Linked DNA regions of Homo sapiens. The protein of the gene in region 1 purifies or fractionates together with the protein of each later gene. This does not show direct contact. Each region holds a gene or a part of one and is shown in the gene's direction. Other genes may lie near its edges.

Region 1 (3,500 bases):
ATAGAGCAAGACTCCATCATAAAAATAAATAAATAAATAAGAGACTTAATCAGGAACTTTCCGAATGTACCATGCTACTAATTTCTCTCAAGAGCCATTTATTTATTTATTTTTTAGATAGAGTCTTTTTCTGTGGCCCAGGCTGGAGTGCACTGGTGCTATCTAGGCTCACGGCAACCTCTGCCTCCTGGTTCAAGCAATTCTGCCTTAGCTTCCCAAGTAGCTGGGATTACAGGTGCGTGCCACCACGCCCAGCTAATTTTTGTATTTTTAGTAGAGACGGGGGTTTCACCATGTTGGCCACGCTGGTCTGGAACTCCTGACCTCAAGTAATCTGCCCTCCTGGCCTCCCAAAGTGGTGGGATTATAGGCTTGAGCCACCGCGCCTGACCAAGAACAATTTGTGAGTTTAGGAGAAAACCCAGGTATTATTCATTCGGCAGTATATATGTAATTGTAGGTTCAAATATGTTTCAGCTGTCACAGGACAGAATCTGTTAGGGAGAGCTATTCAAAAGTAACTTGAGTAAGGCGGGACTTGGTAAGTGCAAAAATGAAGGGTCACGAAAGTTAAGCAAAGTAGTGGCTTGGTCCTTGAGAGATTTTGTAGGCAGAGAGATTGGGGCTTGGGTGGGGTGGAGAGGATTCCAGGAAGAGGAAGCAGCACAGGAAGAAGGGGGTGGAGACAGGAAAAAGAAAAACCATCAAAACCAAAACAGGAAACCAGGATACCCACGGACATAACTGCTATAGAACAAGCAAGTAGGCTGAGCACGGTGGCTCACACCTGTAATCCCTACATTTTGGGAGGACGAGGCGGACAGGTTACTTGAGCTCAGGAGCTCGAGACCAGCCTGCACAACGTGGCAAGACCTTGTCTGTACTAAAAATAAAATTAGCCGGCCATGGTGATGCATGTCTGTAATCCCAGCTATTCAGGATGCTGAGGCAGAAGGATCACTTGAGCCCAGGAGTTGGAGGCTTCAGTGAGCCATGTTCACAACACTCTACTCCAGCCTGGGTGACAGAGCAAGAGCCTGTCTAAAAAAGAAAAAACAAACAAACAAAAAAGATGAAGCAAGTAGGCATTCCTCTTTCCTCAGGTTAGGGTTCTTTTCAAAGGTGCTTTTCAGGTGGGCAAATATCAAAGATGAGCCAGCCTCCCCCTAAGCCTGTGGACTCCACTGTGAGGGGAGTCGGCTGTTCCTTATGACACCATTGTGCAGTTGTGCCTCACACAGGACAATGAACATAAGAATCAGTCAAGTAATAGAGGCTGCTTTGGTTGGCGTGTGCCTCAAGGAACTGGCAGAGGCTAACATTAGTTGGTCTCACCTCAAAAGCAGGCATTTCCAGCCTCGGCCCTACTGACAGTTGGGGAGGGCACAGGAGGAAGGGGCATCTTGTGCATGATGGGACTTAGCAGCCTCCTGGCCTGCACCCACTGGATGCCTGGAGTACCATCCACCCTCTGTTGTGACAATCAAAAATGTCTCCAGGCCGGGTGCGGTGGCTCACGCCTGTAATCCTAGCATTTTGGGAGGCTGAGGCGGGTTGATTGTCTGAGCTCAGGAGTTTGAGACCACCCTGGGGGCAACATGGTGAAACCCCGTCTCTAATAAAATATAAAAAATCAGCTGGGCTTGGTGATGCACATGTGTAATCCCAGCTACTCAGGAGGCTGAGGCCGGAGAATAGCTTGAACCTGGGAGGTGGAGGTTGCAATGAGCTGAGATGGCGCTACTGCACTCCAGCCTAGGCCACAGAACGAGACTCTATCTCAAAAAAAAAAAAGCGTCTCCAGAAATTGCCAAATGCCTTTTGGCTGGGGAGGAGGGTGGCGGGTGGGGGAAAGAGGAGGAGCATTATCCCCCACTGAGAACTCTGCCTCCAGAGGCTGTATCTAGCTCGGGATTCCTTGCCTGAGTTATGAGGAGTTACCCCCATGAAATAGGTGAAAACCTTGATTAGTAGGAATGTGGCAAAACGAGGCACCTATTCTTCACCCACACCCTTTAGGTCTTTAGGTTCACATTTGTCTAACTCACTGCTGCCTTCAAATCATTAACAAAGCCACAAAATGGAGCTGAAGTTGTCTTACAAAGCAAGGAAACAAAGTCAAATTTGAGGGGTGTAAAGAGAGAGAAAGGATGAGATATGAAGTTTATTTTAGTCTATCAGATATCGACTTATCCATATTTATCTGTAGCAATGTTTCTAACTACCCATGGCTTTAAAATTGTTATCTGTGGCCCTGGTGGATGCTTTGATGTTCATTTGCCTGGATATGCTGTCTCTTTTCATCATGCTAAAGTCATTAGGGCCCCAAATGATGTGGCTTCAGCATCGCCACCTCTGGCAAAGATACCAAGGGGCGTGAGTTTCTCAGAAGGTCTTGCCTGGCACCCCTCCCACCACGAGCCAGAGGCTGGGTGTGGGTTCCCTCTTGACTTATTGCCCCAACAGTTTCCCACTCTTGCCCCCAACATAAGCAGCAATATCAGTGTCCCAGAAAGGAACAATTAAGGGGAACAATACCAGGCAGGAAAAGTGGGGGTGGGGGGATGGGAGCCAGGCCAGCACCTGCCATTCCCAGTGTGGAAGTAGGTGACCTGTGTGTTCCTGGGCTGCCTCAGGGTTGAATATGCAGAGACGCTTAAAGTCAAGCACCTCAAAAAGCAGCAAGACCAAACCCACCTGTCAAAAGTGGGAAGACGGCCAGGCACAGTGGCTCACGCCTATAATCCCAGCACTTTGGGAGGCCAAGCTGGGAGGATCACTTGAGGCCAGGAGTTCCAGACCAGCATGGGCAATGGAACAAGACCACATCTCTGTAAGAAATAATTAAAAAGATTAGCCAGGTGTGGTGGTGTGTGCCTGTAGTCCCAGCTACTCAGGAGGCTGAGGCGGGAGGATCCCTTGAGCTTGGGAGGTTGAGGCTACAGTGAGCCATGATTATGCCACTGCACTCCAGCCTGGGTGACAGAGTGAGACCCTGTCTCAAAAAATTTAGGAAAAAAAAAGAAAGAATAATACATGGAACTCCAGCTGATTGTGAAGTGGCAGGGAGGAGGGGAAGAATCACACATGTTGAAGGAGCTTCTGCGAGTGCCAGCCACTGCGCCAAGCCCTTCTCACACAATGCTCCCCAACCCTCCAACAGGGAGTCTCATTATCCCCTTTGCCAACAGAGAAACTAAGGCAGGCAGAGAAGGTTAAGTCAGAGAACCAAGTGGAGGAACCAGGACATAAGCCCGGGATGTTGGTCTTCAGAGCTGTCCTTCCTAATCACCGTTGTTTTGGGGGGTTATTTAAGAAATTGGATCGCATAGCTGTTTTTTGTGTATTGATGAGCTTTCAGAGATGTCTGTTATTTATTAGCTATTTTTCAGCTCTGTCGAGAGGAGATCCACTTCCTGTAAAGGACAGAATGGAAATGCCCACGGCAACCCAGAAAACAGACACAGGCCTGACTCAAGGACTCCTGAAAGTTTTGCACA
Region 2 (3,500 bases), on another chromosome or scaffold:
ATTCATTCATTCATTCATTCAAGGCACCTTTAAGTCCTGTTTGCCTGGGACTCCTGTCTCTTTAAAATGATTTTACTTACCTACTTATGTCCTGATCCATTCTGTAGATTTCATGTATTTATTTGTTTTTGAGACTATAGCCCTCTATTACTTACAGAGGCAAGTAAGTTACTGAAGCAAAACTTTGACCTAGGGCCTCTGCTTGACTTTGTCATGCTGAAGTAATCACCATAACAGATATGCCTTGGCCTGTGTCTGGGCGTAGCCCTATCTCCATTCCAAAATAGAATCCCAAATAAGAACTGGGGGAGAGTATCTGCTTTGCTTTGAAAATTCTGTTTAAACCAAAAGTCCTAGGACCAAGTTGTTATGCCATAAATGGTATAGTTGTCTTAGATGTCACTTGAGGTTCAGCCTTTTAAGCATTGCATATCTCTAAATTTCTGACTGACTTAAGAGCCCAGGACTGAAGTTAAGACAGACCGTTAGGAGTCTGTTTTTGTTGTTTTTCTTTTTCCATAGCCCTTGCCCATGACACACATTGAAGTCACCAGAATACATGTGAGGAACTTTTATTTATTTTTATCTTTCTGAATGTGTCTAGAGTATATGCAGTACTTTAGCTATAGAGAATACTAAATATTTAGAATGTTGATCAGTTAATAAGAAAAATGAAAATGTAACAGTTTGGAGACATCTAAAATCAGACTGGGTTTTTAAACTAAAAATTTTAATCACAGAAATGTTAAGAGAAATTTCTTCTAAGAAGGCCAAAACTACTGTAGTGTTTGCTCACAAGTAGTGTTGGTTACACGAGTTCTAAGTGTCATTATTGTGGAAAAAATTGAGGGGCAGGACCAACATTTACTTTTTGTAGAATTTTTTAAAAGAGAAACTTCTGTCAGTCTTTTGGTAATGAGATGAAGCAGTATAATTTGCCAGAAGCTAAAAATGCCATTCTTACATTTTCATTTTTTTTCCTAAAGGAACAAGATAAAAAAGTAGAAAACTCAAATAAAGAAGAAATACAGGAAAAGGAGACAATCATTGAAGAATTAAACACAAAAATAATAGAAGAAGAAAAGAAAACTCTTGAGCTAAAGGATAAATTAACAACTGCTGATAAATTACTAGGAGAATTACAAGAACAGATTGTGCAAAAGAACCAAGAAATAAAAAACATGAAATTAGAGCTGACTAATTCTAAGCAAAAAGAAAGACAGTCTTCTGAAGAAATAAAACAGTTAATGGGGACAGTCGAAGAACTTCAGAAGAGAAATCATAAAGACAGCCAGTTCGAAACTGATATAGTACAACGAATGGAACAAGAAACACAAAGAAAGTTAGAACAACTCCGGGCAGAGCTGGATGAGATGTATGGGCAGCAGATAGTGCAAATGAAACAAGAATTAATAAGACAACACATGGCACAGATGGAGGAAATGAAAACACGGCATAAGGGAGAAATGGAGAATGCTTTAAGGTCATATTCAAATATTACAGTTAATGAAGATCAGATAAAGTTAATGAATGTGGCAATAAATGAACTGAATATAAAATTGCAAGATACTAACTCTCAAAAGGAAAAACTCAAGGAAGAACTAGGACTAATTTTAGAAGAAAAGTGTGCTCTACAGAGACAGCTTGAAGACCTTGTTGAAGAATTGAGCTTTTCAAGGGAACAGATTCAGAGAGCTAGACAGACAATAGCTGAACAAGAAAGTAAACTTAATGAAGCACATAAGTCCCTTAGTACAGTGGAAGATTTGAAAGCTGAGATTGTTTCTGCATCTGAATCCAGAAAGGAACTAGAATTAAAACATGAAGCAGAAGTTACAAATTACAAGATAAAACTTGAAATGTTAGAAAAAGAAAAGAATGCTGTGTTAGACAGAATGGCTGAATCACAAGAAGCTGAATTAGAGAGGCTGAGAACACAGCTTCTATTTAGTCACGAAGAAGAGCTTTCCAAACTGAAGGAAGATTTAGAAATTGAACATCGAATAAATATTGAAAAACTTAAAGATAATTTAGGCATTCACTATAAACAGCAGATAGATGGTTTACAGAATGAAATGAGTCAAAAGATAGAAACCATGCAGTTTGAAAAGGACAATTTGATAACTAAGCAGAATCAATTAATTTTGGAAATTTCAAAGCTAAAAGATTTACAGCAGTCTCTTGTAAATTCAAAGTCAGAAGAAATGACTCTTCAAATCAATGAACTTCAAAAAGAAATTGAAATACTCAGACAAGAAGAAAAAGAAAAGGGTACACTTGAACAAGAAGTTCAAGAATTACAACTTAAAACAGAATTGTTAGAAAAACAGATGAAGGAAAAAGAGAATGATCTTCAAGAAAAATTTGCACAACTTGAAGCAGAGAATAGCATTCTTAAAGATGAAAAGAAAACCCTTGAAGACATGTTGAAAATACATACTCCTGTTAGCCAAGAAGAAAGATTGATTTTCTTAGACTCCATTAAGTCCAAATCCAAAGACTCTGTGTGGGAAAAAGAAATAGAAATACTTATAGAGGAAAATGAGGACCTCAAACAACAATGTATTCAGCTAAATGAAGAGATTGAAAAGCAAAGGAACACTTTTTCATTTGCTGAAAAAAACTTTGAAGTTAACTATCAAGAGTTACAAGAGGAGTATGCTTGCCTTCTCAAAGTAAAAGATGATTTAGAAGACAGTAAAAATAAACAGGAATTAGAGTATAAAAGTAAACTTAAAGCACTTAATGAAGAGCTTCATTTGCAAAGAATAAATCCAACTACAGTGAAAATGAAAAGTTCTGTCTTTGATGAAGACAAAACTTTTGTAGCAGAAACATTGGAAATGGGTGAGGTTGTTGAAAAGGATACAACAGAACTCATGGAAAAACTTGAGGTAACCAAGCGAGAGAAATTAGAGCTGTCACAGAGACTGTCTGATCTTTCTGAACAATTGAAACAGAAACATGGTGAGATTAGTTTTCTAAATGAAGAAGTTAAATCTTTAAAGCAAGAGAAAGAACAAGTTTCATTGAGATGTAGAGAGCTAGAAATCATTATTAACCACAACAGGGCAGAAAATGTACAGTCATGTGATACTCAAGTAAGCTCTTTATTAGATGGAGTTGTGACCATGACAAGCAGGGGTGCTGAAGGATCAGTTTCTAAAGTAAATAAAAGTTTTGGTGAAGAATCAAAAATAATGGTGGAAGATAAAGTTTCTTTTGAAAATATGACTGTTGGAGAAGAAAGTAAGCAAGAACAGTTGATTTTGGATCACTTACCATCTGTAACAAAGGAATCATCACTTAGAGCAACTCAACCAAGTGAAAATGATAAACTTCAGAAAGAACTCAATGTACTTAAATCAGAACAGGTATGTTTACTTCTTCATATATGGTAAAGCACAATGAAAAAAATGTACATTTCACACTAAGGTTTCACCTTCATAGAACATAAGTTCATATCCTTACAAGAGAATGAAAATGAACCCTCTGATGTA

Evidence for each region. The genes of interacting proteins can lie anywhere in the genome.
Region 2: the proteins of ROPN1L (region 1) and AKAP9 purify together in Homo sapiens (affinity purification with mass spectrometry; 2 studies listed by BioGRID and IntAct, with this or other methods). This does not show direct contact.

The regions. Positions count from the first base shown.
Region 1 is NC_000005.10:10,444,879-10,448,378, forward strand, and holds part of ROPN1L (ropporin-1-like protein), read left to right. Parts: intron 1-3,381; coding exon 3,382-3,500. UniProt on the Homo sapiens protein: Functions as part of axonemal radial spoke complexes that play an important part in the motility of sperm and cilia. Important for male fertility.
Region 2 is NC_000007.14:91,999,862-92,003,361, forward strand, and holds part of AKAP9 (A-kinase anchor protein 9), read left to right. Parts: intron 1-986; coding exon 987-3,374; intron 3,375-3,500. UniProt on the Homo sapiens protein: Scaffolding protein that assembles several protein kinases and phosphatases on the centrosome and Golgi apparatus. Required to maintain the integrity of the Golgi apparatus. Required for microtubule nucleation at the cis-side of the Golgi apparatus.